Linked DNA regions of Homo sapiens. The protein of the gene in region 2 binds, or shares a complex with, the protein of the main gene of each other region. Each region holds a gene or a part of one and is shown on either strand. Other genes may lie near its edges. The genes, in order: POLD3, PCNA, FBH1 and FEN1. A codon is read from its position in the direction of its gene.

Region 1 (7,260 bases), on a different chromosome or scaffold from region 2:
ACCTTTGTTAGTTGGATAGCCCATGGTTGTCATTTTGCCTTTTGTGGCACCTGCTACAGCTTGGATCTTCAGAGAAGATTATTTTCCCTGTTACTGATTTTTTTTTTTCCTAGTTCAGACTTGTTTTGAAAAGATTGGCTCTGAAGAATCAACCTTTCCAGGTTCTTAAAACTAGTGAAGACATTTTGTCATCTGTGCTCCCTGTCCCACTATTCCCCACCTCCCAGTCCTCTGAAAAGGCCTCTGCCATTTTAATTGTAACATGTGATTGGGGAGTAAAATTCTTTACGTGTGGAAATTCTGTCTTTTCAGTGCCAAATTTCTTGTGAACCTGTGAATTCTGGACTTTGAATGGGTTTTTTTTTTTCTTTTTCTTCCTTTTTTTTTTTTTTTTGGCTTTCAGTCTTTTAATAGTTGCCATTTTCAAGCCTCTTGGTTTGGCCATGGGTGATAATATATGTGTTTACTGTTGAATTTCTTAATTCAACAGTGCATTTTTTAAATTTAAGAGGACAAAAACATTGGTGCCAGTTTTTTCCTCCTCTTTCTGCCCCAAAAGAAAAAAGTCAAACGTCTTTGTGAGAGTGAGAGTTCATTGGGAATTTGTGGGTAATTATTTATTGCTTTGTTTAAAATATAGTACTCGAGTTTTGGCCAGGTGTGTGATGTGGACTTTTTTGCACTCCTGTCTCCAGACAGGACTGTTAAGAGCCTTGGATGCAGCAGTGAAAACTGTGCTCACATTGCACTTTTTTTTTTTTTTTTAAAGGTTTTTGGTCCAAGCTCAACCTAATGAATCTTGGCTTTGGTTACCAACAAAGGAGTTCTGCTTTCCTCTCTCTGCTCAGACTGTTCCAAATGTACCAGCATAGGGGGCTTGCCCTGTCCTGTGCTGGATCAGATTTGTTCTATGGGTTTAGAAAGCTCATCTTTCTCTCTTTGTGACTTTGCAGCAGAAATTGGGTAGTTGGGCCCCTGAGATAAGTTTGGAGTAGACTTCTGGACAAGGGAATGGGTTTCTAAGAGCAAAGCAGTTAAGTGGAAAAGAAATCTGATGTTACCCACGAAAACCAGGTTTGTTTGCCTTTTTTTAATGGCAACCCAGAAAAGTGGCATGTTGTTCAGCTAAAATAAAGGCCCTATATTTTTAATGGAGACCTCCTTTTTTCTGGGGTTTGCGGTAGCTACAGCTTTGAATATAGAAATATTCCTTTTAGTTCTTACAGTATACTGAATATGCTGCTAAAGAAATTTTGTTGGTGCTGCCCTGACTGTTTTTTAACTCCCCTGAGCAATGTCTCACACAAAATTGGCAATGAGACAGCCATTGATTTCATTAATAAGTAATGAAATAATGAGCTAATTGATGCTGAAGTATAATGTAGACATGCTGCCATTTGAGTACAGAATATAGCTTATGAAGGAGCAAAGTCTTATACCACCAACTAGTAGAAAGTAATTTCCTTTCTGTATCTGTAGATGGCTCTTCAGACTTTTCTAATTTAAGATATTGAATAAATAACAGCTCGTAATTTTGTCCCATTAATTCAGTTACATAATGCTTTTGAAGATGCATGTGAGATGGAGGTGGTGTTCTGGGGTCTAATTGCTGAACGAATAGGTATGCCATGGGAATTCTCTAATTATCTTAGAGCAACATTTCTCAAACTTTGCCGGCTATGTGCATTACTTGAAGATCTTGCTAAAATTGAAATTCTGCATCAGTAGGCCAGGAGTGGGAACTGAGAGTGCATTCCTAATAAGCTCATGGGAGATTCTGTTGCCTCTGGTGTGCGGAGCACAATTTGAGTAGTAAGGCCTTTCAGAATACTTAATATATATCTAAAATTTATCAGTATTTTTTAGCCTCTAAGTGAACATCAAAGTGAATTCTGGGCTCTTACAAAATTAAAGACAAACTCTGGGAACTCTCTGGGAAGGGATTGTTGATTATGCAGCCTTAATGGGATTAGCTGGATAAGAGGGACGGAATGCTCCAGTGGCAATTGCACTTCAACATTTAAAACAGGGAAGGAGAGAACATTAATTCCCAGAGTGTGGTCCCCAGACCAGCAGCATCAGCATTATCTGGGAGCATGTTAGAGAAGCAAATTCTCAGGTCCCACCCCAGATCTGCTGAGTCTGAAACTTGAGAAACAGAATCTGGCAATCTATGTTTTAACAAGCCCTCCAGGTGGTTCTGATGCACAGTAAAGTTTGAGATGATATCTTAAGTAGCAGAGTAGGTATTGGGACACACATACATTTGATTCCAAAGCTTATGCCTCTAGAACAATTTGATATATTTTATTAGAAAGAATTATCAATAAAAGCTCAAGACTGTCATTGTTCTTTAATGGAAAAAAAAACCTTTTACTTTAATCATTTGAGCATTTATTATGCATATTAGGTTACGCTTTTCAGCTAAGAACAAGCTCTTTTCCTTCAATGTTTCTCTATCGCTTGCTGCAACCAGGAAGGCTGAGAAAGAATTTAGATAGCATTGGTTATACAGCTGCCACAGCTCTCTAAAATTACAGAAAGGTGGCATGCTGTTTCTTGTGGTTGGTATATGTGTTGCAGTAGTGTAGATCCTCCTCGGTTATGTGACGTCATGGCTGGAAGCCACTATCTGTGCCTGTGTCCTTTGGGGCTTGCTCATAATGACTGCTTACTGTTACAGTTCTTTTCCAAGTTTCCCTTGGGAAGGGTTCAGTGAGTTTTAATAGCAGGGGAAAAGCAATTTATGCCTTCGGCTGATAGGGAGTAAGAAAACTGGTAACTTTGTTTCTCAATTTATCACTGTCATTCCTTTAACACGTGTGTCATCCGATAGCATTTGCTTGAGATAGTTAACCTTCATGATACAGACTACTACTAAATTTTGGGTTAATTTGCAGCCATTAAGAACTAAGAACCGAACAGTTGAGTAACTAATCTTCAATTCTCTGTACCTAGGATGTGCAGAGAGTGGGTGGCATCAGGTTAGAGCTAGACAGGAGGGTCCATGGTGACCTTGGTTAAACAGAATGGAGGCAGGCAAATAGGCCAGCAGTTTAAGACCAGTAACGGGAATAGGCAGGCATTGTAGGTCAGAGAGGTGATACTTAAGAAGCCAGTCAAAGCATGGAGTTAGAAGTAAGTGTTTAAGATATAGACAATTCGGATATAGAGTTCAGGAAGTTAGCCAGCATAGGCCAGGACCCAAATAAAGGATTTAGGCAATTCACTGATAAAGGGCCATTTAAAGGCATGGGATATAGCTGTGAGGGAGAAAAGTGAACGTTAATTCTAAGCATCAAATAGAGACTGTGTGAGCTCAGGATCCCACATAGTTCCTACCTTAGGCTAGATCTGATCTCCCAGTGGGAGAAAGATTGAGTCCTAAGTAAGCATATTTGCCTTGATCAGAGTCTGAAATGATTGGGGTTAGCAAGACATCCCATTTTCTTCATAGAGTAAATGATTCAGCCCACCCATGTTCCATTTTTTTCTCATCCTACCAGTGACTGAAAAAGTCTACGAGAGTGAATCCTGCACAGATAGTGAAGAGGAGCTTAACATGAAGACATCCTCAGTACACAGACCCCCTGCCATGACTGTGAAAAAAGAACCCAGAGAGGAACGAAAGGGCCCCAAGAAAGGGACTGCTGCTCTGGGCAAAGCCAACAGACAGGTGTCCATTACTGGCTTCTTCCAGAGGAAATAAACTGCCATCTCTGGTAGATCAGAGACTTGGAGTGGTCAAGGGAGAAGACCAAGAAATGTACTCCTCACTTACTATGTAAGTTCATCTAGATCTCCACCTCACCTGTATCAAAAGACTGTTCTTTCATCCTGTGAGGTTTATACTATTTCTGGTTTTTAACCAAAAGGAAATCATCTGGAAGCAGGAGGCAAAAAGCTGTTACCTTCTAATGACATTTAAAAAGCACAGTCTTTGACCTGTCCAGGAGAAGGATTTACTCCAAAATTATACTGGAACAGTTTTCAGAATTCTCACTGAAGCCATTTAGTGGCTAACCCACTGTGCTCCACTCACCCTATGCCCTGGTCCGCATATGGCACAGGAATTATTCCTTCTTGTTCCTCTGTATTCTAAGAATTCATGTGGGTGTTTCTTATCCTTACATTCTGCTGGATACGTTTACCCCTCTTGTCTTCCTGCAGTACCACACTTCTGTCCCCTAACCTCCTGAGGCTGTTCTCTGTAAGTCTTTTAAGTTTTGGTTGGACTAAAGGCTGAAGTGAAAATCTCCCTGTAATCCTCTTCCTCCATTATGCAGTACACGGACACCTGGCTACAGACCAGGACGTGGCTTGTGTTCTGTTCCTTTCACAAAAGCTCTCTGGGACCTTCACTTGCAATTAGTGGTTAGGGAAAAGCCTCAGGCAGAACACAAATAGAAATTTAATGATGTGTTCAACTCCACCAGAAATTACCTCGAGTCAGCATTGACGATATTGGAGGAGCTGCCGTGCTGCTGATACGGGGTGTGCTTTATGCTGCTCTTTGCGGTTTGTTGATCCCCTCCTCCCCCACTCTCAATACCTAGAGAGTGAAACCCGTACAATGAGATAAAGACTAAAAAGAGAAATCCCTTCCTATATACAGTGTGCTACATTTACAAAAAATTTCTCCTTAAGAAAACAGAATATTCAAAAACAGCACTTTTCCAGGAAGTTAGTGAGGAAGATAAGGCACACATTTATTTATAAATGGATGTTGCTCCTTTGTATTTTTAGCTTCCCTATTTGCTTAAAAGTACAGGCTCCCTAAGAGAGGATGGAGAGGGAGAGACTGAATTGTTAGTAGGTCTAAACATCAAAGAAAACATTTTTATTAGTTACTTATGGAAAATCATCTATTACAATGATAACCTTCAAGTGACTTCCATTATGGCTGGACAGGCGGTGAGCTCAGTGGATTGCAGTGGTGTGCTGGTGATTTTGCACAGTGAGCTCTGCGGAAGGGGTCAGGCTCAACTGCTGATGTGTCTCACACGTAGCAGACAAGGGGTGTCTGACTGGCTTCTTTTGCCTCAAGATGGTGTATGTCGTAAGTGATGCAATCAGCTGTCTGCTTTTTAAGGTTGGGATTGTGCTGACTTTGGGATTAACATGAGCTTCTTTAGCAACCAAGCATGAACTTGATTAAGACCAGAAGTTTGGGAGATGAGTCCTGGCATTATGTCTAGGACTAAAGCAGTGGCTTTGTATAGCAAGCTGAGTAAAGGTTGACATATTCCAAAACCCTTCTTTTTAAAAGGAAAAAGGATGGAGAGAAGGATGGAAAGCCTGGACTTAAACCTTTAGAAAAAACTTCTGGAGAGAAATCCCTTTTAAACAGTTACTTTTGTCATTGCCTCTGGTCATTTGTCTAAATAGGAATGGAAAATTAAAAGAAAAGCAACAATCCAATCTTTTTTCTAAAAATTATGCTGGGGTCTCGACTAAAACTGAATTTGAATTGGAAAATTCTGGTGTTGGTTGGAGTTCCATCTTGCAAGGGATAATACAAATCCTATGATCTCTATGCCCAATATGCTGCCTCAACTCTGAGCTGTCTGCAAGGCTTAGTAAGTATTGAGTGGTGTTTTTTTTTTCTTTTTATACAATACCATGTTAACCACATGAGTTAAATAAATTTGAGAAGTTGTTTTAAAACAGTGCTTCAAACTGAGTATCTGATGAGTCTCTTATTTGATGGATGGTAACAGTGTTGCAATTATTTAAGCTCTGAATGGGAAGAAGGCTGGTTTTCAGTTGATATTGTTAAAACTGCATACCCACAGTCTGAGATGAACAAGTTATTTGCTGCCTTCATCGTTTTTTTCAGCACTGGGGAAATGTTAGTTTCAGCCAACCTCATTTTTTAGTTCATCTAGAAGAAAATCTAGCACATTGTATTAGTTTGGCTTCATCACTTGCTAGCTGTATGACTGTGGGCAAGTTTCACAGCCTCAAGTTCTTTATCAAAATAAAACTAAAATGAGTTACCAAGGGTGTCAAGACTAAAGTCAAGTGTATGTAGCATGAATTCGGTCCATGTTGGCGGTCACATACGCGCTCTACAAAATGGTGGCTTTCTTTCTGATGTCATAAGTGATGTAATCAGCTAGCAGCTTCCTGAAATGTTATCAGTTATACGACCCAGGTGGTATATTCTTCAGTCATTCTGGCTGTACATGTAGTAAAAAGGGGAAGATAGTTGTCCTATTTCATGAAAGGTTTAAAGAGAGTAGATATTTTCCTACTGAAGGAATTATAGATGCCTATATTTACTGTTCATTTATTGTGTATCTACTATGTGTCAAGCCCATGACCTGGGGACTAGAGGATATAATAGAAACCATAGAATTTGGCACTTGATCCTCACAATTTAGTGGAAGGGAAAGCCAGTAAAATGAAATGACAGTGCCATATGTGAGTGCAATGTACAGGGTCCTCCAAGAGTTCCCAGGAGGATGGGTATCAAGGCAGTCTTCCTGGAGCAAGCAGTTCTTTGAATGATGAGCAGGATTTCACCCAGCAAAGAGGAATGGAAATGACTTTCCAGGCAGAGGAGCATGGCTTTTGGGAGAGGTGGGCTGTAGAACTTGAGAATAGGGAGGAAAATGTATTCAGAAATGAAGTTGGGGCCTTGCTAAGCAGTTTGGATTTGATTTGTAGATAATGGGAGCCAACTGAAGAAATTTAAGAAGAGTAACAGAAGTTGGTTCTCAGTTAAGAGTGACAGCCAGTATTTACTTTGATTTTGTATCCATGATAGTATTTCTACCCTTGCATATGCACATTGTATCTTAAAATTCTAGCGGGATTAAAGAAAACCATCTTGGTTAAAACAAGGCCGCTTAATTCTGGCAGTCAGCATAGACAATTGCAGTGTTTCCCTTGTCTTCCCCCGTCAACATAGATTTCTGTAGCAGAATCAATTTTTTAAAGTGATTTCAAAAGCTGGTATTTCTTCTTTGACACTCTCAGTGATGAGCCTCCACTCACCTCCCTGGAAAAAACTGGGAATTCAGGGGCAGAGGGGGCTGGTAAACGAGTGAAACAGTTCTCTATTCCTTTTCTATCTTTGTTTCTTTAAGAAGACATTAGTTATTATACAGGAGAGGGCTGAAGAGAAGGGCCATATAAGGAAACTAAATAGTTTCTCCAGGACATGAGTAGAATGAGTGCCTAATAATGTATTTGCCAGAAACGTACTCTGTGTCAAGACTCGTTTTGGTAAACTTGTCTCCTTTCATTGGTTCC
Region 2 (3,771 bases):
ATTTGCATTAACTTCCATGAACCTCTTTTAAAATTTGTTTCCTTCTAGAATGCTTGCTTTTTATTAAGTGGATTTTAAAGCTGACTTGGAAGAAATTTATCCAGGTTAGGTTTATAAACACCAAAGGAGAGAAGAAATGTTTGAATGTTGAAAATGCCTAATATATTCTCTTGCTTTCTTTTAGAAAGTAGTTAGGCCTGCTTGCGCCATCATGATTTCTGTGCCATACTCTAATGTTCTCTTACTTTATCCCTGGAGGATGAGGAGGAGGAGGCTCTTGTTCCCTGGATGGTGCATTTAATAGCCATTTATTTTTTTGAGTGGAGTTTGTTAAGAAATTACGCAAGTCATATTTTAAAGTAATCAGAAAATATTGATTCTGAGTTGTTTAGGTGTTGCCTTTTAAGAAAGTGAGGGTGCCAAATCATTAAATTTCTAACAATTAACTTTTGGAAAATTTTTGTTCTTAATAGGAACAGGAGTACAGCTGTGTAGTAAAGATGCCTTCTGGTGAATTTGCACGTATATGCCGAGATCTCAGCCATATTGGAGATGCTGTTGTAATTTCCTGTGCAAAAGACGGAGTGAAATTTTCTGCAAGTGGAGAACTTGGAAATGGAAACATTAAATTGTCACAGACAAGTAATGTCGATAAAGAGGAGGAAGCTGTAAGTAGTTTTTAAGTAAAAAGAAAATAGTTTGAAGAGAATTATAATACTGCTTATTAGGTTAATTGCTAAAATTAAAAGTAGACAGAATTGGATCCCAAGTAATTTCTGAAAATTGAGATACTGTTGAAATCTGCGAATGATTTATAAGTGTCATCCAATTTAGAATTATATTTGCAAGAAGGGAATACAAATTCAGCACGTGTACATACCACAGAACAGTGGTTTATGGATCAAGTCCACACCGGCTCTTAAGGGTAGGATTGGGAAGTTAGGCGTATAACCTTTAGCTTTCTGGAGATACTTACTCTCTTACCAAATAATTGAGCATAGGACAGCAGCTCAATAGAAGGATATGGTTAGGAGTAAAAGTCTACCTGTTTGGAGCACTTATGTAATCCTAATATTAGCTTACATGTTGTGGGTCCAATTGGTAGCCCATTTTAAAGGTGGAGAAGCAGGCTGAGCAACCTTAAGTGACAATTTAGCCAAAGTCACAGGCTGTAGGAATCAAAGGTTAAACAGGAAGGAGACTTCTCACTAAGGCTAGAAAGCAGACTCCATGCAACTTTGAGAGTACCTAGAGAGCCCTTGTTTAACCAAAATAGAAAGAACATGGCAAAACCCCATCTCTACTAAAAATATAAAAATTAGCCGGGTGTGGTGGCGCACACCTGTAATCCCAGCTACTTGGAATGCTGAGATGGGAGAATGACTTGAACCGAGGAGGCGGAGGTTGCAGTGAGCCCAGATCATGCCACTCCCCTCCAGCCTGGGTGACAGAGCAAGATTCCATCTTAAACAAACAAAAAAAACTCGCTAACCTGGGCATAAATTAAAACTTTGTAAATCAAGGACAAAGGTCCTAACCTCATAACCTTGTTAGGATTAAATACGGTAGCATTAAAGAGCTTAGCATATGCTGTGTGTGGCATATTATAAGCTTACAATAAATACTATATATTGCTCTCTTGTCCCTTGAATGGGTAGTCAACATTTAGTTTAAATAAAGGTAAAATTCAGTTGAAAGGTTTTTTTTTAAATTAATAAAGTCTAGGAGCTGATTCTTTATCTGTTTCCTGAATCACATTTCCACTCCTGCCAACCTCGTTTTTTTCTTTTTCTGTTTTTCTTTGTTTTTGAGACAGGGTCTTGCTCTGTCCACCCAGGCTGGAGTGCGGTGGTGCAGTCGGTTCACTACAGCCTCAAACTCCAGGGCTTAAGTGATCCTCCTGCCTCAGTTTCCCAAGTAGCCGGGACTACAGGTGTGTGCCAACACACCTAGCCTGGTTTCCCCTAATTTCATTTTCCCCCTTCCATTACAATCTATTTGTTGAAGAAATTAGATCATTTATTAAGTTTTCCAGAGTTTGGATTTTGCTGATTGCATTCCTGTGTATACATAAATTCCTCTACCCTGTGTGTCCTACAGACTGGTAGCTATAGCCCTGGAGCCTTGATATTCAGGGTGTTTTGTTTCGGGGGTGAGAGAGCAAGAATATAGGTGGTGGTGTGTGCCTCTAGTAGGAGGCACAGGGTGTCTGGATGTGTTTGCAATGTTAGCAGCTATAATAGTCATTGTCTAGATCCATTAAGTCATTAATTAGAGTTTGCAGAGCTGAAATTAATACGTTTTATTCACTTATTGGCTGCTTATTAGAAAAACTTCCATAAAGAAAAGCTTTCCCATATTATATAATTTGGTTATCTAAATTATAGCTATAGGAAAGACAAGCTAGATAATCGAGTCTTTTGCTTTATGTATCAGTCTTCAAAATTTTCATAGCTCCCTCCAAAGTGACCAATACAAGTGTTTGTGGGTTTTTATAAATATATAATGAGCTAATAGATTGCAACTTTCTTGATGTTTTTCAATGATGAATCTTTTGTTTTGTAGGTTACCATAGAGATGAATGAACCAGTTCAACTAACTTTTGCACTGAGGTACCTGAACTTCTTTACAAAAGCCACTCCACTCTCTTCAACGGTGACACTCAGTATGTCTGCAGATGTACCCCTTGGTAAGATAATAAATTTGAACCTTGTTTTGTAGGTAGTCATATGTGATACATACTCCTCAGTAATTAACCATCTTCCTGTCTTTCAGTTGTAGAGTATAAAATTGCGGATATGGGACACTTAAAATACTACTTGGCTCCCAAGATCGAGGATGAAGAAGGATCTTAGGCATTCTTAAAATTCAAGAAAATAAAACTAAGCTCTTTGAGAACTGCTTCTAAGATGCCAGCATATACTGAAGTCTTTTCTGTCACCAAATTTGTACCTCTAAGTACATATGTAGATATTGTTTTCTGTAAATAACCTATTTTTTTCTCTATTCTCTGCAATTTGTTTAAAGAATAAAGTCCAAAGTCAGATCTGGTCTAGTTAACCTAGAAGTATTTTTGTCTCTTAGAAATACTTGTGATTTTTATAATACAAAAGGGTCTTGACTCTAAATGCAGTTTTAAGAATTGTTTTTGAATTTAAATAAAGTTACTTGAATTTCAAACATCACAGGGCAGTGTCTTCATTTTGACCAGGACTGTTGGAAGTATCCTACTGAATTCCCAGCTACAGCTACCCTTTCGTTTAAATGGTTTTTCAGTTTAGAGCAGCCTGATGGAGATCAAAAGGATTTCAAATACAGTAGGTTACTAGATATTTTAGGGGATTCACTTGTCAAACTTGTTATTCCAATTTGAGCTCAAGGAACAAGTGAGAGAGTAGTACAAATCCTGTGTATTTCATTTTACTTGGCAAAAATTAATACTCTTCAGAAGCTTAATGTACCGAAAGTCGTGTGGGCTTTATAAGATGTTAATGGAGTGTTTCTTTTTAGCCTGGGGAATCTTACAAGAGTCTTGGATGTTTCAGTAGAGCTGTAATGGGGCCCAAGGAGTATGGTTGTACAAAATTTCTCTAGTATAAGTACACTTTGCAACTTCACTCAAAGGATGAAGATGTCTTAAATTCCACGGATGTTGGATCCAACCAAGAAAGTGAAAAAGCCCTGAAGTTGTGAAGAAAGACTTAAAAACATTCCCACTAATAGCTACAAGTTCACTGTGTGCTGTGTATTAAGAATTTTTTGCCAGGCACG
Region 3 (9,104 bases), on a different chromosome or scaffold from region 2:
GCTTAAACACTGGCGCTGAGATTCTTTACTCTTAAGCCAAATTGGGTCTTCCCATTATTTGTTCTGTAGGGATCCTGCAAGTCCTTGTAATGCACAACAGACTTTCGGGACTCCTTCATGGTCTGTCTTTCCTGCCAGTCTGTTGAGTTCCAGGAGGGTAGAAACTACATGTGTCTTCTTTCTGTTGTGGCCCTTGCACCTGGTACAGGGCTTTATTTATTTTTTATTTATTTTTTTTTGAGACAGAGTCTTGCTCTGTTGCCAAGGCTGGACTGCAGTGGCGCGATCTCGGCTCACTGCAAGCTCCGCCTCTTGGGTTCACGCCATTCTCCTGCCTCAGCTTCCTGAGTAGCTGGGACTACAGGCGCCCGCCACCACGCCCGGCTAATTTTTTTTGAATTTTTAGTAGAGACAGGGTTTCGCTGTGTTAGCCAGGATGGTCTCGATCTTCTGACCTTGTGATCCGCCCGCCTCGGCCTCGCAAAGTGCTGGGATTACAGGCGTGAGCCACCGAGCACTAAATGAATGTATAAATGCTCGTTGAAAAAAATAGAGAAATGGATGATTTTGCCGCTGAAAACATTTTCCCCAGATATTTGTTATTTTTGTTTCATATTCTTTATCTGCTATGTCTTTTGTTCATTTTTCTTTTGAAAGCCTAATTTTTTTCTTAAAAATGTGTCTGAGCTCTTTATGTAGCACTGATATCAACTCTTTGTCATAGTTAGCAAATATTTTCCCTGACTTGCTGTATTGTTCTTACCTCTTAAGAAGCACCTTGACTGCCTCCAAATGGCCATGCATTGCTGGGAGGAGAAAGAAAGCTGAGAATTAGAGCTTTTTAGTGCACACACAAAATGCTTCCTGCCTCCTGGCTTTGCTCTCTGCCCCGTTCTATTAGTGATAGCTTACAAGAAGGAGTCATTAAATTGGGTACACTGTTACCGCCCTACACGAATAAATATTTAACTGGATAAAGCGGTAAACAATAATGTTTTCACTTTATATGTACACAGCCAACACTTGATTATCTTATCTTCACGTGCACTTTCATGGGAAACTTTCAATCCTAAAGTTACACTTCTGTGCTGTGGATCCCCAAGACTAGTCCATTTTTGCCCAGGAAATGCAAAATATTGTAACAGTAATCCATGGCAAAATAGCCTGGATTTAATTCCCCTACTAAAAGTAACTATACTCAAAGGTTATGACTATTTGTCTTCCACTATTTTGGGTGAATGATGGAGTGCTGATTGTTTCTCCAGGGGAGAAACTGGTCAAATAATTCATGAGCTAAAAAAAAGTTTTCTACTTACTTAAGAAGTTTTAGAAATGATTCCTTGGTCCCTAATTGCCAACTGTGGCTCATGCCTGTAATCCCAGCACTTTGGGAGGCCAAGGTGGGTGGATCACTTCAGGTCAGGAGTTCAAGACCAGCCTGGCCAACAAGGGGAAACCCCATCTCTACTAAAAATATGAAAATTAGCTGGGCATGGTGGCATGCGCCAGTAATCCCAGCTTCTCGGGAGACTGAGGCACGTGAATTGCTTGAACCTGCGAGGCAGAGGTTGCAGTGAGCCGAGATCGTGCCACTGTATTCCAGCCTGGGTGACAGAGCAAGACTCTGTCTCAAAAAAAAACAAAAGACAAAAAGCAACACTATAAAACATCACAAGTGATGATTTTTAGAGAAACTAAAAGCCCTCTATCCTAATCAATGTACTACCTAGAAAGCTACAAGTTATATTCTGAATTTCTTAATCTAGACTCTTGAGCTCCTTAATATCTAACTTCTGAAATTACAGTAATTTTACTTTTTACTAATTGTTTTCTTTTTACTTTCTTCAAACAAATGAGCAAATTGAAACTTTTTACTAAAATAATCTACAAATAGATAATTCAGAGTTAAGAGTCACTACTCCAAATAATAAAAACTGTAACCCAAATTTACATTAGATGTTATTGGGCCAAGGTATTTAATTATGAGTATCTATATTTATTTAAAAGTATAGCACTATGGTAGGTGTTACTAAGGCTATGAGGATATATATTTCCCTCCTGCCTTTAAGAGTAAGAATGTAAACATGATAAAGAAAATAGCACTAACCAGTTATTTTGTGCTATGTGCCAAGCATTGTCTAAAGGATTTACATACATCATGCTCTTTAAACTCTACAACAACCCTGAGACATACCATCACTGACATTATTATTTGGTTGATGAGGAAACTTGCTCAAGAGAGAGACTAATTTCCTTACCCAAGGTCAAAGACTATGTGCTACAGAACCAGCTCATGGGCAAATAATCTAGGGAGGATAACACAGATACACACGAAAAATAAATTAATACCACAGCATGCTAGCCAAGTTATGTTAACTTTAGAAATTGATTATATGCCAAAAGGCCCCTAGATGCTTTTTTTTTTTTTTTGAGATGGAGTTTTGCTCTTGTTGCCCAGGCTGTAGTGTAATGTAGTGCAATCTTGGCTTAGTACAACCTCTGCCTCCTGGGTTCAAGCCATTCTCCTGCCTCAGACTCTGGAGCTCCCCAGTAGCTGGGATTACAAGCAGCCGCCACCACGCCCGGCTAATTTTTTGTATTTTTAGTAGAGACGGCGTTTCACCATGTTGGCCAGGCTGGTCTTGAACGCCTGACCTCAGGTGATCCACCCGCCTCCGGCCTCCCAAAGTGCTGGGATTACAGGCGTGAGCCACTGCACCCGCGCCCCCGCCCCCACCCCCTCCCCCCCAGATGTTCTTATTCTCTGCCTTCTGTTTTCCAAAATCCTCCTTTCCCCTGAAGGTGACCTGAACAAGATGCGGTTGGGCAGTGCTGGGTGAAGCAGCCACATGTGTGTACTGCTCACCTGCAGAGCTGTAGGCTGTACCTGCAGTATGCAGAGGAGTCCTTCTAATTTTGCTCTCTGTCTTCCAGGCACCTGGGCAAACAGTGAGCAGGTACTGGAGGATCAGAGGGTCGCCTTCTCGACTGGCAATGTGGAAACTGTTCCAGCCATCTTTGTTCTTCAGGAGTGGATTGGCGCCATGTTCCACCAGCTCCTGGATCACCCCCAGGTTCTTCCTTGTGCAGGCCATCATCAGAGGAGTCCTAAGGCCAACCAGGAGAAGCTGTCAGATGGAGGCAGCTGAGACATTAGAAGCCAGGGGCCAGGTCTTCAAAACACACACATCCTTGGCACAGATGGAAAACCTAGAGGATTCAGGGGTCTGGCAGGCAGGAAAACAGCTTTGACCGGCAACCTCTGTGCCTTCTGTGAGGACCCTGGGAGAAATAATAAGGGGAAAATGATTGTAACGAACGTGTACCTAGAGGAGAGGGTGCCTGGGAGACAAAGCAGCTTATAAGCTAGTTCACAGGATAGCAGTGAATTGGAGCAGAGCTAAGAAAACCCACAGACAACCCTCAACACATAACGAAGTCTATTCCCCTGCCCCAGTGGGGAAGATGTACTTCCCTATGTTCCTAAAGATGTTCACGCCCTCTAACGAACCTGACCTAGTGAGTACTAAAATCAGTGTCAATCTAACAAACGAAATGCAATTGGCTTGTGTGATGGTGGAGCAGAGTATCTCTGACTGTGGTGGTTATGCAAGGCTGCACGTATGTGATACAACTGCACTGTGCTCTACACACACGAGCGCGTGTATAACTCAGGAATTCTGGATATTGATTGGAGCAATGCCACTTGAAACAATGCATTGGTGCAGAAGTAACTTAGCTAAATGTCCCCAGAACATCGCATCCGGAGGCTATCTGTATAGTGCACACACTTCATTGTTTGGTAACATTCTCTTTGGTTATATTCTACACTATTCCGTGCTCTAGAAAGGGAGGTGACTGCCCCGACCAGTTAACCCACAAGGGCAGGAACGAGGGACTCTGCAGGTCATCTGCGTTATAAGGGAAAGTTGGGCAGGAGGTCCCTGCCGCTGAGCAGGCCTGGGGTGAGAACTAGGAGCTGAGAACAGCTACGGTGTCCAAGGGGACGGAGAAGCACAGGGAACTCGCTACGACTCTGCGAGTAGAGGGGAGGCGGGGTGTCTTTCCGCTCCACACCTACCAGTCGGCCTTCTTCAGGCAGTCGACCGCTGCCCCCCGGCCCAGCAGGTAGCGCACGCAGTCTCGGTGGCCCATGGAGGCCGCCTCGTGCAGAGGCCGCTTGTAGTCTCGGTTGGTGGCCTCGATGTCCATGCCCCAGGCCTCGGCCAGATAGGCCAGCACGTCCCGATGCCCGTGGCGCGCGGCGCAGTGCAGGAGGGTATCCCCGGCCGGCCCCGGGCAGCCCCCGGCCGCCTGCAGCTCCTCCTTCAGGGCGCGCAGCCGGCCCTCCTGCACCAGCCTGCAGAGGCGCCGCGGGTCCCCGGGCTGGGCCATCGCCGCGGGTCGGGCCGGGCTGCGCGGGGAGGCGGCGGGCGGGACACCGGCGGCCGGGCAGGGAGAAGCCGAGGGCGAGTGGGACTTTCCGCCTCTTCACGCAACCTGCCCCGCGCGCCCCGAACCCGGCAGAACCGCCCCTCACGCCCCCGGCTTTGTCCCCGGCAGAGCCGCCTCCTCAAACCCCCGGCCTAGTCCGCAGGCGGGCTGCCCCCTCACAGCCCCGGCCTGCCCCGCGTGGGAGAAGCCGCGGTTCCGGGCACGGGGCGGTTTTTCCTCAGGGACGGAGCGGTCCGGGATGAGCACGGAGGGGCCTGGGGATCCGAGAGCGCTGGCGTCCGCCGTCCTGGAGCTGCAGCGGCCCGTACGTGATTCGGGACTGAACACGTAAGGGAGTGGGGCGCGCCGCTACACCGCAAAGCCCCAAAGTGGAGGGTCCGGGAGGGCGCGCACAGCCTCGCCCGGCGCCGTGCAGGGTGGCTCCTGAGGCAGCCAGGCCCAAGCGTGACCTGCCCCGCACGCGTCCTCAGGGCCGCCCCAGCCTCCAGCCCCTGGGGGCCGGCGTTCCTGGGCTCCGCCCCCGTCCCCGCCCCTCGACCGCCGCTGCTCCGCGGGGACTCGGGGAGCTCGAAGGAACTCTGGGAAAGTTTCCCGCTCCGCCCCGGCCCGAGCGGAAGCGCGGATGGGGCGTGGCCCGGTAGCTGTGGCCGCGCCCCCACCGATTGCGCATTTCGATTGGCGTTAGTGGCCGTCCGTCAGCACGCCCCCTCCGGTCTCGCGTCCCGATTGGTCGCGGGGGCCGTCAGTCCGGCTCCGGCGGCGGGCGCTTCCCGGGGCTGCGGCGGGGCGGAGCTCGCGGAGGAAGTCGGCGGGCGTCTCGGGCTCCAGGTCCCGGCCAGAGGAGGAGCTCGCTGCCGGGGGACGCTGGGCTGAGCGGCCGGCGGCGCGGGCCCGGCGGCGGCGGCAGCGGGGTCCGGGTCCGGAGCGCCACAGTGCGTGAGGCCGCAGACGTGGCAGGGAGTGTGGGAGGGGCTCCGCCGTGTGGAAAACTTAACCTCCGGGGTCCTGCGCGGGGGGTCCGGGCCCGGGGTGGGGCAGCGGGGGCCCCGGGGGCGCGAGGCTGGGCTCGGGCAAGCGCGGGCGTGGGGGCTCGGCCGTCCGGGCCGTGGGCAGGTGGAGGGCGCGGCGGGGGTGCGCGGGGGAGGCCAGGGCGCTCACTGAACTCGGTCGGGAGCGGCCCCCGCGCTGCCCCCCGAGGCCAGGAAGGCGCAGCGTGTGGGTCCTCGGGGCTGAAGGGGCAAGCGCGGGGACGTGGCCTCGGCTGCTAGGAGGCCAGGCTTTCCCGTCTACTCTGACGTTTTGACCTTGGGCAAGTCATTTTTCGCTGCCCTCTGCCCCTGTGTCATCGGTAGCTTCTCTGCCCCTCCTCTGAGCATGGGAAGCCTAAGGCGATGTGGGAGGCCTGGCGCTGGTGGAGGGCACGGCGAGAGCTGGGCAGGCTGTGGGTGATGGAAGAGATCAGTAGGTGTTGGGTTCCTTACCCGATCTGATTAGGTGCCAGTCACTTAACCTCTCCATGTTTTCGATTCCTTTAGGGAGTAGAATGGGAGTAGCTCCTATTTGCCAGGCCTAAAAACGAGTGCCGTTTACATTTTTTATTGCAGTCTGTGGTCCGAAGACAACCCTATGAGGCATCAGTAGGGTTTTACAGGTGGGGAAGTGGAGGCCTAACCAAGTCAGTGACTTTCTTACAGAATTACAGGTAATAAAGTCTTCTGGAAGGCAGGATGGTAGCATGTGTTGAGTGTCCGCCAGCGTCTGCCGCTGTGGTAAAATGAGCGGAGATAAATGAAAAGACTTCTGGAATGGGCCCATGAAGATAAGTCCGTTTTACTCATGAGCAGATTGAGTTTGGTTAAGGTAACAGTGATGTGGATAGCCTCTGGAGACAGAACTAGTCCAAGTACCAGCTTTGCTCAGGTTATTGTTCTGTCGTGCCTTGTCACTCCAGCAAAAGAAAAAAAGGAAGGCATAAAAGTTGTTTGAAATGCACAAAAGTGTAGGGCGTGCCAAGCAGTGTTCTGCTGCCGTTGAAGTTAGTGCAAATTGGAAGTTGAGGCATCTGGTAGCTTCATGCTTTTTGCTTTTACCCCTGCCCCTCTCCCAGTTTCAGATGACTATCTTCTCTTGCATTATGTCTCTAGTTTCCCTGTTTTTTAAACATAATTGGGACACACGGGTTCACAGTAGGTTGGAATATATATATATATTTTGAGACAGAGTCTCGCTCTGTTGCTCCGGGTGGAGTGCAGTGGCACGATCTCGGCTCACTGCAACCTCCCCCTCCCGGGTTCAAGCAATTCTCCTGCCTCAGCCTCCCGAGTAGCTGGGATTACAGGCGTGTGCCACCATGCTCGGCTAATTTTTTTGTATTTTTAGTAGAGACGGGGTTTCACCATGTTGGCCAGGCTGGTCTTTAAACTCCTGGCCTCAAGTAATTCACCCAGCTCGGCCTCCCAAATGCTGGGATTACAGGCGTGAGCCACCGTGCCTAGCCAGGTTGGAATATTTGAACCCAGGATAATTGGTTACTTCATTGGTGTTGCACATTCGATTCTGCCTCTTGTGTCTTCTCTATGAACCTTCTTTGCTCTGTATCCCCCTTTGGATAACTAAATGATAATGTATGTGAATCTGTCCCGCAGCTCCTGTGATTTTCTGGGCAAAAGCTTGGTCTAGAGGGGCGGGATCTGAACAGTAAGCTAATGGATGGAGCTGTTTCCTGGGTCTTGCTGTTTTCCGGTTGGGCTGCTCATTTCTTTCGTGCAGACTTTTGGAGGTTGTGGTCTGGCCTTTACAGTCACGTCACATGTAGTCGTCATTGGCACCGACTTGCTCCTTGGCTGCCCTTCCTTTTCCTCCTGTTTTTCATGGGTATGCTGTTGAGCATGCCCATTGGTACACTGATCATTTGACAGGTTTCGTGATTTGTGAGTGTGTGTAGACACCACTATTGGTATTAGATTTAGAATTCTAATTTTGGGTTTGTTGACATCATCTTTTTGCTGCTTATCTCATTCCTCTATCCCTCCTAGGCTGATTTTATTTGGAAACTGAATTTGGATTCCATCTTTGCCTTTCTGGCTGTGAAATTACCTACTTTTAGAAAGCATCTCAAATCTTATATCTGTAACTGTCATTCACATGCCTTTTGAAGACCAGTCTCAGATTTCAGAGGACCTCCTGGAGCATAAACATGGTATTCCACAGATAACTTAAAGCCAGAAATTATTTTTAAAACTAGGACTTTCAGCCTCCCTCTCACTCCGGGGGAAAAAGTGATTAAAACACAAACACTGTTTCTCTTTTATTCCTTAACATGGTTAATGACATTAACATCTCTTTGAATGTTCTACTAGAAATGCCAGTTATCCTTGTTGCTCTTTATCTTTTATCTTTCTGTCTTGTCAAACAAAGCCATGTTCTTATGCACCTGCAGGGTCTGCTACTCTCAGGCCTTTGCCAATTCTCACATAGGTTGATATGGTGGCTTTCTGAGTTGTTTTCCTGACAATCTCCATGTCTCTCCACCTTCTATCCTCTCTCCCGAGTCACTGTCCTAAAGTGTAAATTTGATTGTGTAATGACCCTGCTTTAAAAATTGGATGAGGCCGGGCGCGGTGGCTGACGCCTGTAATCCTACCACTTTGGGAGGCCGAGGCAGGTGTATTGCCTGAGCTCAGGAGTTCTAGACCAGCCTGGGCAACACGGTGAAATCCTATCTCTACTAAAATACAAAAAATTAGCTGGCTGTGGCGGTGTGCACCTGTAGTCCCAGCTACTCGGAAGACTGAGGCAGGAGAATCACTTGAACCTGGGAGGCGGAGGTTGCAATGAGCCGAGACTGTGCCATTGTACCCCAGCCTGGACCACAGACAGAGTGAGACTCTGTCTGAAAACAAAAAACAAACAAACAAACAAAATTGGATGATACCTTGAAGCCCCTACCTGATAAAGTCCAATTTCTTTTTTTGAAGCCCAATTTCTTTATCATTATGTGTAAGGACCTTTGTAGTCTGTGGCTCCAAATTCCTTTTCCAGCCTTATCTCCTGTCATTCCTCATCAGGGAACCTCTTGTTTTGATGAAGCCCAGCTTTCCTGCCACTCTAGTGCATTGTTAATGCCTCTGTATTTTTGCACACATTGTTTCCTTCCGCCTTACTGAATCCCATGATTCTTTCAAGACTCAACTCTTCGTGAAGCCTTTTTCAACTTGCCTAACTCTATTTATGTTTCTTTACTATCATAACACTTCATGCATGCATTTATGTAGTTGTTATATTACTTTATCTTTAGTAACTTGTGTTTGTTTTGGTAGCTGCCTTATGGGTAGGCTTATTCACTTTTGTATCACTAATGTCTAAAATAGCATTTAACACCAAGGATACCATAAGACAAAGCTCTCATGGAGTTTAAAATGAATCTGGGACATAGCAGATACGTAAAAGTAGTTGTGGAATGAATTGACTGTAGAAAAAGCCTTTCAAATATATAAAATTATATTCTAGACCATAAGTAGTGATCTTTCTCTTGTTTTTCAAACATTCCTTTCTTTCTTTAGGAAAAACATAGAACGGAAAGCCCAGCCCATCCTTGTTGGCTGTCATACACGAGTGCTGTCTCCAAGGGAGTCACAGGTGTCTCAGAT
Region 4 (9,099 bases), on a different chromosome or scaffold from region 2:
CTTCAGGGAAGGTAAGTGGGCCACCTGCTGGAAGCTGCCAGCTGCCCGGCTGGCAATGGTGTGAGTGTCTTGGCCCTGTCCCTGCCCTGGGGTCCAGCAGGTCATCCCTCCCTTCTTCTCTCTCCTTTGGCGTTTGTTCCTGTAGTCACTGGGCTAATCTCCCCCTAGCTTCAAGCTGTACATAGGGCCTCCCAGTGCAAATCCTCCTGCCCATACCGTGCACCCTTAGAAGCCTGCGTGTGCATAGAGCGCCCCCTACTTCCCAGTTAACTCCCAGTTCTTCTCCCTGAGCTTGGTATTTGTCATGTGCCAACTCTGACTCTGAGGTGGGCAGTGAGGGAAGCAGCCCCGGGCCTGCTTGCTTCCTGTCCCCGAAATGTTCGTTTCTTCTGAAGTAAATATACATATATAAATAAATGTATAAATACTGCTTTGTATCTGAGCTTGCCTCCTTGTCTCTTCTTGGGATTGGTCTGGTGGGAGAGGAGTCACCTATAAGGCTAGGGCCAATTGGAATTCAAAGTTCTTCCTGAGAAGCCTGGAATCTCTGAGCGCCTGAACCAGAGGGCCAAATGGATGCTTCATACCCCTTATCCTCTTAGCTTCATATTGGGGCTAGGAGTGGACTCATCAGCCTCTCCCATGGCCACACCTTCCCCTCCTGCGCACCCGCTGCTGCCCACCTGCATTAAAAGTAGCCACTGAGGAGAAAAGCCTTCTTAGGGGGAGAAGCTGAGCCTGGTGAGGATGCCCCAGCACAGAGAATGGTGGCTATGTTTATGGCAGGGACTGGCCTAGGGCAGAATGGACCGATGTGGGTTCCCAGAGAAGTTTGTCCTAGAAACAATAGAAAAGGGTAGGCCCAGACCCTATCCACAGGTAAGCCTTAAATTCCAATGACAAAACACCGGTGCTACACAAATCTCATCCCCCTTAAGTAGATCAGCAGCAGGAACTGTGAAAGGCAGATGAGAAATGGGAAAGGGAAGAGATTGGGGAAGCAATGTAGGTCCCAGCACCCACCACCCCTGCAGAATGGGCCCCAGACAGGACTGCTATACATCTGCATTTATTATGAGCAGCAGGTGGGACACTTCCAGCAACAGTAAAAAAAAGTAATTTACAAAAGCAGGTTTCAGTGAAGCCATCTGGTTGTTACCTAAAAGAGGAGAGGGGTATCAAAATAAGACCAATGGCCCTTCTTTCCTCCTTCTCTCCCTGCACCCCTGTGCTCCTGGGGCAAGGGCTATTGAGCACACACCTCTGAGGATGAGCCACCAGAGCTGATTCCTAGTGGCCTGTTTGGTGGATTGTCTGCAGCAAGTTTTAAGCCCTGGATCTTGACCCCCTTTCAGCCAGCTGACTTCCCAGCAGCCTCTCCAAGTCACTGGGGTCTGACTTCTAAGAATGTAAATGTACAGCCATGGGATGCCTGCGTCCACACTTCTAGGTGGTACATCCCAAAGGCAGATCGAGGCCTTGGGCCATGTGAGCTCAGAACTGAGAGTCACATTTGGCTCAAATCCGTATGAGGGGCAGGGAAAGAGGCACAAATGTCTAGTGTCCCTACCCATTCCACTGAGTCTGTCTCCATCAACCAAGGGGTCATGCTGGTAAGAGCTTTAAGGACCCTGCTGACCTGACTCTGGGGAGGCTTCCCTGGGCTGTGCCTTGGAGGCTCACGCATCCATCCCATTGCAGCTCTTACCCTTGGGTGCTCACACGTAGATGCCAACCCAGAGCAGCAGGAAGAGGACTCCAAAGCCCATGAAGAGTGAGGCCACTAAGGAGATGAGGAGCTCTTTATAGATATCACGAGTGTACTTGGTAGAGGTGACCTCGTAACTGGGCACAGCAGTTAAGGCAAAGCGAAGGGGTGGACTGTGGAGTGCAGAGAGCCCAGCCCACGGCAATCTGAGGAGAAAAGCATTGGCTCAATGCCTTCTGGGAGGCCTATCTGGCTCAGAGCAGCCAGGCAGAGGGGCCTAAGAGATGCCTTGGACTCTGGTGCTCCACTGCCATGAAGAAAATGAGACCCAGAGGAGTTAGGTCACTTGCCCCAGGTCACACAGCTCATGAGGGCCGGAGCTGGGACTAGCCCTCAGACCTCCTGACACCTGAGTGCACCCTTCCTTATACCACCTTTCCAACTGTAGCACCCCTATTCCCCACCTCCACTCCAGCCAGGTCCCCTGCTCACTGTCCTGGAAATCCAAAGAACAAACTGAGCTCACCTGAACTTGGGAAATAAGGCTATAACCTGCCCCTGGGCATCACTAGCCCTCCTCTCCTCCTTACCTTCTCTCAGCCCCAATCCAATGTACAAAACCGGCGGGGTCCATGTACCTAGCGTGGTTTCTCCCTGAGCTTCCCACATCACTAATGCTGGTCCTCTGGCTGCTCAGTGAAAGGATACACGAAGAACCAGGCGGTGAAGAACATGCCAATGGCCAAAAGCACCACGGTCAGATGGGGGAAGACAGCTGGGTTCACTGGGCTGGTATATCTGCTCATGGCCTCGAGCTCCTAGAGGAGGGAAAGAGATCAGAGCTATCAAAGAATCCCACGATTTCAGCCTGGAGAGAACATGCGGTTATCAAGGAGCCTGGTGCTGCCGTGAAACAGAGGCTGATTTTAGCCCGGAAATGTAGCTGCAGATCAATGGCCCTTATTAGCATTTTCTGAGGCCAATAATCTGACCACTATGAAAACGTGACTAAAGGTACGAACTCTCTGCCTGAGAAAAACCACATACAAGAAAAAGTTTGCCTACAATTTCCGGAGCTTTGTGGACCAGTGTCTATAGACACCAAGCTGAGAACCCCCGCTATAAGTCACTGACTGGTGGTACCCAGATCTCAATATCTTTTTTTTTTGACGGAGTCTCATTTTTTGGACGGCGTCTCACTCTGTCGCCCGGGCTGGAGGGCAGTGGCACGATCTCGGCTCACTGCAACCTCTGCCTCCCGGGTTCTAGAGATTCTCATACCTCAGCCTCTCGAGTAGCTGGGACTATAGGATTACAGGTGCGCACCACCACATCTAATTTTTGTATTTTTAGTAGAGATGGGGTTTTGCCATGCTGGCCAGGATGGTCTTGAATTCCTGACCTCAGGTGATCTGCCTGCCTCGGCCTCCCAAAGTACTGAGATTACAGGTGTGAGTTGCCGCGCCCAGGCTCAATTTTTTTTTTTTTCCAGACAGTCTTGCTCTATCGCCCAGGCTGGAGTGCCTGGAGTGCAGTGGTGCCAACTCGGCTCACTGCAAGCTCCGCCTTCTGGGTTCAAGTGATTATCCTGCCTCAGCCTCCCGAGCAGCTGGGATTACAGGCGTGAACCACCATGCCCGGCTAATTTTTTGTATTTTTAGGAGAGACAGGGTTTCACCTTGCTGGCCAGGCTGGTCTTGAACTTCTGACCTCCTGATCCGCTCGCCTCAGCCTCCCAAAGTGCTGGGATTACAGGAGTGAACCACCGCGCCTGGCCCTCAATTTCTAATTCAGTATTTTCCTCACTACCTATGCTATTATGGAATCTTGTGAGCTATGGTCAAGACATTCAAGTTCTGGTTCTGAGTAATCTGAGTCTGAGTAAAGCGACTGTAATATCTATTTCACAGAACTGAAAAATAAGAAAGATGATGAATCAAAGCATCTAGTGCCTAGCAGGGAGTATTTTGCTCAACAGGTATTTGCTTCCTTCCTAAGGCTGTAGGGAAGATGATGAGATAATGTCTTTTATGAAAGAGGGCTGTAAACGTAAAGATCTGTACAAATGTTAACTTCATTGTCACCGGTCAGCCAATGCTTCTAAAATCCAGAACATAACAACTCTAGAGAAGTAAACTGCCCCCATTGTTCTGAGACACTGGAATTCAATTCAGTAAACAATCACGGCCCCCTTCCCCCAAAATGATAAAGACAATCACTGCCATTTATTGAGCTTCCAATTACGGGCCCTCTGTTTGGCACTGAGAATACAAAGATGAATAGACATCATCCCAGAGCTAGATGCGCGTCAGACGGTGGTCACTAGGAGGCGTGGCCGAAAACAAAGAAGTCCATGGAACGTGGCCAGAGATCTGTACAGAGGCTGTGGGCGCTCCTAGGAAAGTCTGGCCAAGTGCCTGAGAGTTGGAAGTGCTTCACCAATAAACATTTGCCCAGGGCATTGTAGGATGGGCACGGGTTCGGCAGAAGAACTTTCCAAATAAAGATAACACACCACCGATAACAGAGATATACAAACTGGAAGGTATTCAAAATTCGCCCCACGCCTCTCGCCCTTAGAAATCGCGAGCTGAGAAACCTAAGGAGTTCATGGCAAGGGGCTTCCCCCTTCCCCACCCTTCAGCCCAAGCCGGAGGTTCCAGGAGCGTCTAGCCCTCTGGATCTCCGGCGTCTGAGGAGATAAGCGCGGTGTGGGTCAGACCCCGAGGGGTCCTCGCATCTCCGTCTGGAACTCCCCTCAACGCTCTCACCATTTTGCCCCGCGAAGGCTAATCCGCCGCTCCGCCACCGGAAGAACACGTCGGCAGGAGCAGGCGCCTAGCACAACCGGAAAAGGAAGTGCCTCCGGCGCAAGTGGCATTGAGGGACTTGTAGTCCTGCGATTTCGGGTGTAGAGGGAGCAGGGGCCTGCGGGGACCTGGTGTGGGTGGAGTGGGGACAAGCGGTGGAGAAGGGTACGCCAGGGTCGCTGAGAGACTCTGTTCTCCCTGGAGGGACTGGTTGCCATGAGAGCAGCCGTCTGAGGGGACGCAGCCTGCACTACGCGCCCCAAGAGGCTGTGCGTGGCGAGCAGGTCACGTGACGGGAGCGCGGGCTTTGGAAGGCGGCTGAACGTCAGGCCACCCGCCGCTAAGCTGAGAAGGGAGAGCGAGCTTAGGACCGCCTGCCCGGGGCAACCCCGAACCAAGCTTTAGCCGCCGAGGCCGCGTGTCCCAAAGGCCAGGTGAGACCCCATGGGAAGCGCCTCCGGGAGCGACGGGGTCCGCTTGGCGCTGGGGGCCGTGGGGAGCCGGGGTCTGGAGTGCGCGGGATTCGCAGTCAAGAGGTCCCGCCACTTTTCCCCCTGTGAGCCTTGGGCCAGTCGCGTAAGCTCCGAGCCTCTCTTTCCTCCATTGTAGAAAAGCGGTAATAAGTTCCACCTTATGGGGTCGTGTTGTATTTTTCCTAAGACCTTGGACGAGAAACATTTCTGACACTTGAGTTGTTTAGGCCCCTTTCCTGCCTACCTGTCTGTGGGACGCCGTGAGGGGATCAAGGGCTACATGGTCTGGTCCTCAGTCCACACTCCAGCAGCGCGGCCGGCTTGAGGCAAGAGCCGAAGGGTTGAACAGGCCTGGAGAGGGGACATTAGAGGTTTCTGTCTGTTGTCTCAGTTAACCCTGGCAGCAGCCCTGAGAGACAGGCATGGTAATCGTTCTTCTTCTGTAGACGAGAAAATAAACCTCAGTGGCTTGGTAATGTCACACGGATGGTAAATGCCGCGCCTAGATTCAAGGCCAGAGCTTTTGCCGCTGCAGTTCACAGGGGAATTATTCATATTAATCAAATGAATAATTCATTGTCAATTAATTATTAATTGATTAATAATCCAGGGATGGACCTGGAAGGACGCGTGAGAGGATGGCGAGAGGAGGGCACAGCTAAGGAAAAGTGGGAAAAGGCGGGCCTTATTCCAGCTTTCTGTTGAGATCCCAGAATGTAGGGTTAGGTTGGGAACCAGAACATGAAAGATCGTGATGCCATGCTGAAGTGTTTGGACTGAATTAGAAGGAAGAATTGAACAGTCATTGATGCTCTAGAAAGAACCCTGTGAAGAAAGAGTGGGAACAATGAAAAGGCCTGATGGAGTCTTTCGTTTCTTCTTTCTCTTTTCTTTTGTCTTCTTTTCTTTTCTTGACAGGGTCTTGCTCTGTTGCCCAGGCTGGAGTGTGGTGGCACAATCATAGCTCACTGTAGCCTGGAACTCCTGGGCTCATGTGATCCTCCCACCACGGCCTCCCAAAGTGCTGGGATTACTGCCCAGAGCCTCTGTGCCTGGCCCCAGTAGAATATTTCTTGGAGTATTGGACACATACCAACAGTGGGCACAAGATGAGTTTTTTATTTTTTTGAGACGGAGTCTCACTCTCTTGCTAGGCTGGAGTGCAGCGGCACAATCTCGGCTCACTGCATTCTCTGCCTCCTGGGTTCAAGCGATTCTCCTGCCTCAGCCTCCCGAGTAGCTGGGATTACAGGTGCACACCACCACACCCAGCTAATTTTTTTTTTTTTTGTATTTTTAGTAGAGACAGGGTTTCACCGTGTTGGCCAGGATGGCAAGATGATTTTAAATTGCACCCCCTAAAAATCCTTTTTAATAGTTATACATTTAATACATATTAAAATATAACTAATAGAACACAAATATTATTGCTTATGAGTTTTCCAGTTTAGTTTTTTAAAAAAAATTCTAAGTGAATGAAAGTACGGGTTTTAGTTGGAAGTAGCAAAAATCGTGAGGGTGATTTGGGAAACACTGCTATCTGGGAAACACTGAACTCTGAAGTGCAATACTCTTTTGAGCCCAGTGACTACAGCATGCCAGACCCCTAAATCAGGACCTGGGGAGGAGCCATGGAGTTAACATTTCAGACTGAGTGGTGGCGAGAAAACGCAAAGGGAAAGACTTGAAACTCTAGCAACATTATAATAAAAGTAGAAACTCTTATGTGCTGAGGCGATGATGAAGAGAGTTTAGAGAAGCTTGTGAGAAAGCCACATCACCTCCATTCAGATATGTTTGCAATCCTTTTTCAAGGCTGCCTTATTAGTCAGGGTTCTCCAGAGACTCAAAACAAATCAGATCTGTTTGTTTAGCTGGTGTATTTGCCTGTCTTTCAGGTCTGCCATTATGGTCCCTGGACTCCTCAAGCCAGGCCAAGCATCCTGGCCTTCTGTGGTCCTTGATGGAGACCTATGTTGCAGGTTTTTTTTGTGTAATAAATAATGCTGCTACCTTAGAATATCAACAGTATCTTATTTCTCTAAGCACGTGGTTCAATTTCTGGTACTCGTTGAGCCTTACTATTGAGTAAATTCTCCTGCTAGACTGAGTTTTTTGAGAATGGGGACCTTGTTCATCTTTTTATCTTTAGCAGTGCTGACATGGTGTCCTTTTTGTTGTGTGGAATTTAGTTGAAGGCATGAAGTTGGTGAGATAACACCAGTTATAACCTTTCTCCTTTCCTCCGTCTCTGACTTGCCTTTCTTTTTTAGTCATCCCTCCTCTGTGTTGCCATGGGAATTCAAGGCCTGGCCAAACTAATTGCTGATGTGGCCCCCAGTGCCATCCGGGAGAATGACATCAAGAGCTACTTTGGCCGTAAGGTGGCCATTGATGCCTCTATGAGCATTTATCAGTTCCTGATTGCTGTTCGCCAGGGTGGGGATGTGCTGCAGAATGAGGAGGGTGAGACCACCAGCCACCTGATGGGCATGTTCTACCGCACCATTCGCATGATGGAGAACGGCATCAAGCCCGTGTATGTCTTTGATGGCAAGCCGCCACAGCTCAAGTCAGGCGAGCTGGCCAAACGCAGTGAGCGGCGGGCTGAGGCAGAGAAGCAGCTGCAGCAGGCTCAGGCTGCTGGGGCCGAGCAGGAGGTGGAAAAATTCACTAAGCGGCTGGTGAAGGTCACTAAGCAGCACAATGATGAGTGCAAACATCTGCTGAGCCTCATGGGCATCCCTTATCTTGATGCACCCAGTGAGGCAGAGGCCAGCTGTGCTGCCCTGGTGAAGGCTGGCAAAGTCTATGCTGCGGCTACCGAGGACATGGACTGCCTCACCTTCGGCAGCCCTGTGCTAATGCGACACCTGACTGCCAGTGAAGCCAAAAAGCTGCCAATCCAGGAATTCCACCTGAGCCGGATTCTGCAGGAGCTGGGCCTGAACCAGGAACAGTTTGTGGATCTGTGCATCCTGCTAGGCAGTGACTACTGTGAGAGTATCCGGGGTATTGGGCCCAAGCGGGCTGTGGACCTCATCCAGAAGCACAAGAGCATCGAGGAGATCGTGCGGCGACTTGACCCCAACAAGTACCCTGTGCCAGAAAATTGGCTCCACAAGGAGGCTCACCAGCTCTTCTTGGAACCTGAGGTGCTGGACCCAGAGTCTGTGGAGCTGAAGTGGAGCGAGCCAAATGAAGAAGAGCTGATCAAGTTCATGTGTGGTGAAAAGCAGTTCTCTGAGGAGCGAATCCGCAGTGGGGTCAAGAGGCTGAGTAAGAGCCGCCAAGGCAGCACCCAGGGCCGCCTGGATGATTTCTTCAAGGTGACCGGCTCACTCTCTTCAGCTAAGCGCAAGGAGCCAGAACCCAAGGGATCCACTAAGAAGAAGGCAAAGACTGGGGCAGCAGGGAAGTTTAAAAGGGGAAAATAAATGTGTTTCCCCATTATACCTCCTTCACCCCAGAATATTTGCCGTCTTGTACCCTTAAGAGCTACAGCTAGAGAAACCTTCACGGGGTGGAGAGAGGATTCTAAGGCTTTTCTAGCGTGACCCTTTTCAGTAGTGCTAGTCCCTTTTTTACTTGATCTTAATGGCAAGAAGGCCACAGAGGTACTTTTCCTTTTTTAGCTCAGGAAAATATGTCAGGCTCAAACCACTTCTCAGGCAGTTTAATGGACACTAAGTCCATTGTTACATGAAAGTGATAGATAGCAACAAGTTTTGGAGAAGAGAGAGGGAGATAAAAGGGGGAGACAAAAGATGTACAGAAATGATTTCCTGGCTGGCCAACTGGTGGCCAGTGGGAGGTGATGGTGGACCTAGACTGTGCTTTTCTGTCTTGTTCAGCCTTGACCCACCTTGAGAGAGAGCCACCAGGAAGGCGCATCTTAGCAGATGGGAGGAACTGCTGAGAGAAGATGGGCAGAAAGCTGGAGCCCCTGGAGTTGGCTGTGTCTGTGTTTGTGACTGATTACTGGCTGTGTCTTGGGTGGGCAGAAACTCGAACTTGCTATGTAATTTGTGTCTAGTTATTCAGAGGAGTAAGATGGTGATGTTCACCTGGCAATCAGCTGAGTTGAGACTTTGGAATAAGACACTGG

The links.
Region 1: the proteins of PCNA (region 2) and POLD3 are in contact, whole or in part, in a crystal structure (PDB 1U76), measured with the Homo sapiens proteins. Residues at the interface, in NP_002583.1 of Homo sapiens: Met40, His44, Val45, Ser46, Leu47, Glu124, Gln125, Leu126, Gly127, Ile128, Pro129, Thr206, Ala208, Asp232, Val233, Pro234, Tyr250, Ala252, Pro253, Lys254, Ile255, Glu256, Asp257; in NP_006582.1 of Homo sapiens: Ala453 (codon at 3,665), Asn454 (codon at 3,668), Arg455 (codon at 3,671), Gln456 (codon at 3,674), Val457 (codon at 3,677), Ser458 (codon at 3,680), Ile459 (codon at 3,683), Thr460 (codon at 3,686), Phe462 (codon at 3,692), Phe463 (codon at 3,695), Gln464 (codon at 3,698), Arg465 (codon at 3,701).
Region 3: the proteins of PCNA (region 2) and FBH1 are in contact, whole or in part, in a crystal structure (PDB 8F5Q), measured with the Homo sapiens proteins. Residues at the interface, in NP_002583.1 of Homo sapiens: Met40, Ser43, His44, Val45, Ser46, Leu47, Leu126, Gly127, Ile128, Pro129, Ala208, Asp232, Val233, Pro234, Tyr250, Leu251, Ala252, Pro253, Lys254, Ile255; in NP_835363.1 of Homo sapiens: Ser56, Gln57, Arg58, Cys59, Ile60, Pro61, Phe63, Phe64.
Region 4: the proteins of PCNA (region 2) and FEN1 are in contact, whole or in part, in a crystal structure (PDB 1UL1), measured with the Homo sapiens proteins. Residues at the interface, in NP_002583.1 of Homo sapiens: Cys27, Asp29, Met40, His44, Val45, Ser46, Leu47, Ala67, Met68, Gly69, Asn95, Ala96, Asp97, Leu118, Met119, Asp120, Leu121, Asp122, Val123, Glu124, Gln125, Leu126, Gly127, Ile128, Pro129, Glu130, Gln131, Glu132, Glu201, Pro202; in NP_004102.1 of Homo sapiens: Arg19 (codon at 7,340), Phe27 (codon at 7,364), Gly28 (codon at 7,367), Arg29 (codon at 7,370), Lys30 (codon at 7,373), Lys80 (codon at 7,523), Val167 (codon at 7,784), Lys168 (codon at 7,787), Ala169 (codon at 7,790), Gly170 (codon at 7,793), Pro188, His208, Ser210, Arg211, Leu296, Lys297, Trp298, Ser299, Glu300, Arg332, Ser335, Thr336, Gln337, Gly338, Arg339, Leu340, Asp341, Phe343, Phe344, Lys345.

Annotation. Positions count from the first base shown.
Region 1 is NC_000011.10:74,637,058-74,644,317, forward strand, and holds the end of POLD3 (DNA polymerase delta subunit 3), read left to right. Parts: intron 1-3,506; coding exon 3,507-3,709; 3' UTR 3,710-6,019; downstream 6,020-7,260. UniProt on the Homo sapiens protein: Accessory component of both the DNA polymerase delta complex and the DNA polymerase zeta complex.
Region 2 is NC_000020.11:5,114,367-5,118,137, reverse strand, and holds the end of PCNA (proliferating cell nuclear antigen), read left to right. Parts: intron 1-473; coding exon 474-668; intron 669-2,565; coding exon 2,566-2,689; intron 2,690-2,775; coding exon 2,776-2,855; 3' UTR 2,856-3,185; downstream 3,186-3,771. UniProt on the Homo sapiens protein: Auxiliary protein of DNA polymerase delta and epsilon, is involved in the control of eukaryotic DNA replication by increasing the polymerase's processibility during elongation of the leading strand.
Region 3 is NC_000010.11:5,884,960-5,894,063, forward strand, and holds the start of FBH1 (F-box DNA helicase 1), read left to right. Parts: upstream 1-5,283; 5' UTR 5,284-5,386; coding exon 5,387-5,387; intron 5,388-5,715; exon of another isoform or gene 5,716-6,157; intron 6,158-9,017; exon of another isoform or gene 9,018-9,104. Other genes in the region: ANKRD16 (ankyrin repeat domain-containing protein 16), read right to left, coding at 764-806, 2,888-3,108, 4,082-4,395. UniProt on the Homo sapiens protein: 3'-5' DNA helicase and substrate-recognition component of the SCF(FBH1) E3 ubiquitin ligase complex that plays a key role in response to stalled/damaged replication forks.
Region 4 is NC_000011.10:61,788,077-61,797,175, forward strand, and holds the start of FEN1 (flap endonuclease 1), read left to right. Parts: upstream 1-4,834; 5' UTR 4,835-4,952; intron 4,953-7,264; 5' UTR 7,265-7,285; coding exon 7,286-8,428; 3' UTR 8,429-9,099. Other genes in the region: dolichyl-diphosphooligosaccharide--protein glycosyltransferase subunit TMEM258, read right to left, coding at 1,719-1,845, 2,417-2,526, 4,480-4,482. UniProt on the Homo sapiens protein: Structure-specific nuclease with 5'-flap endonuclease and 5'-3' exonuclease activities involved in DNA replication and repair.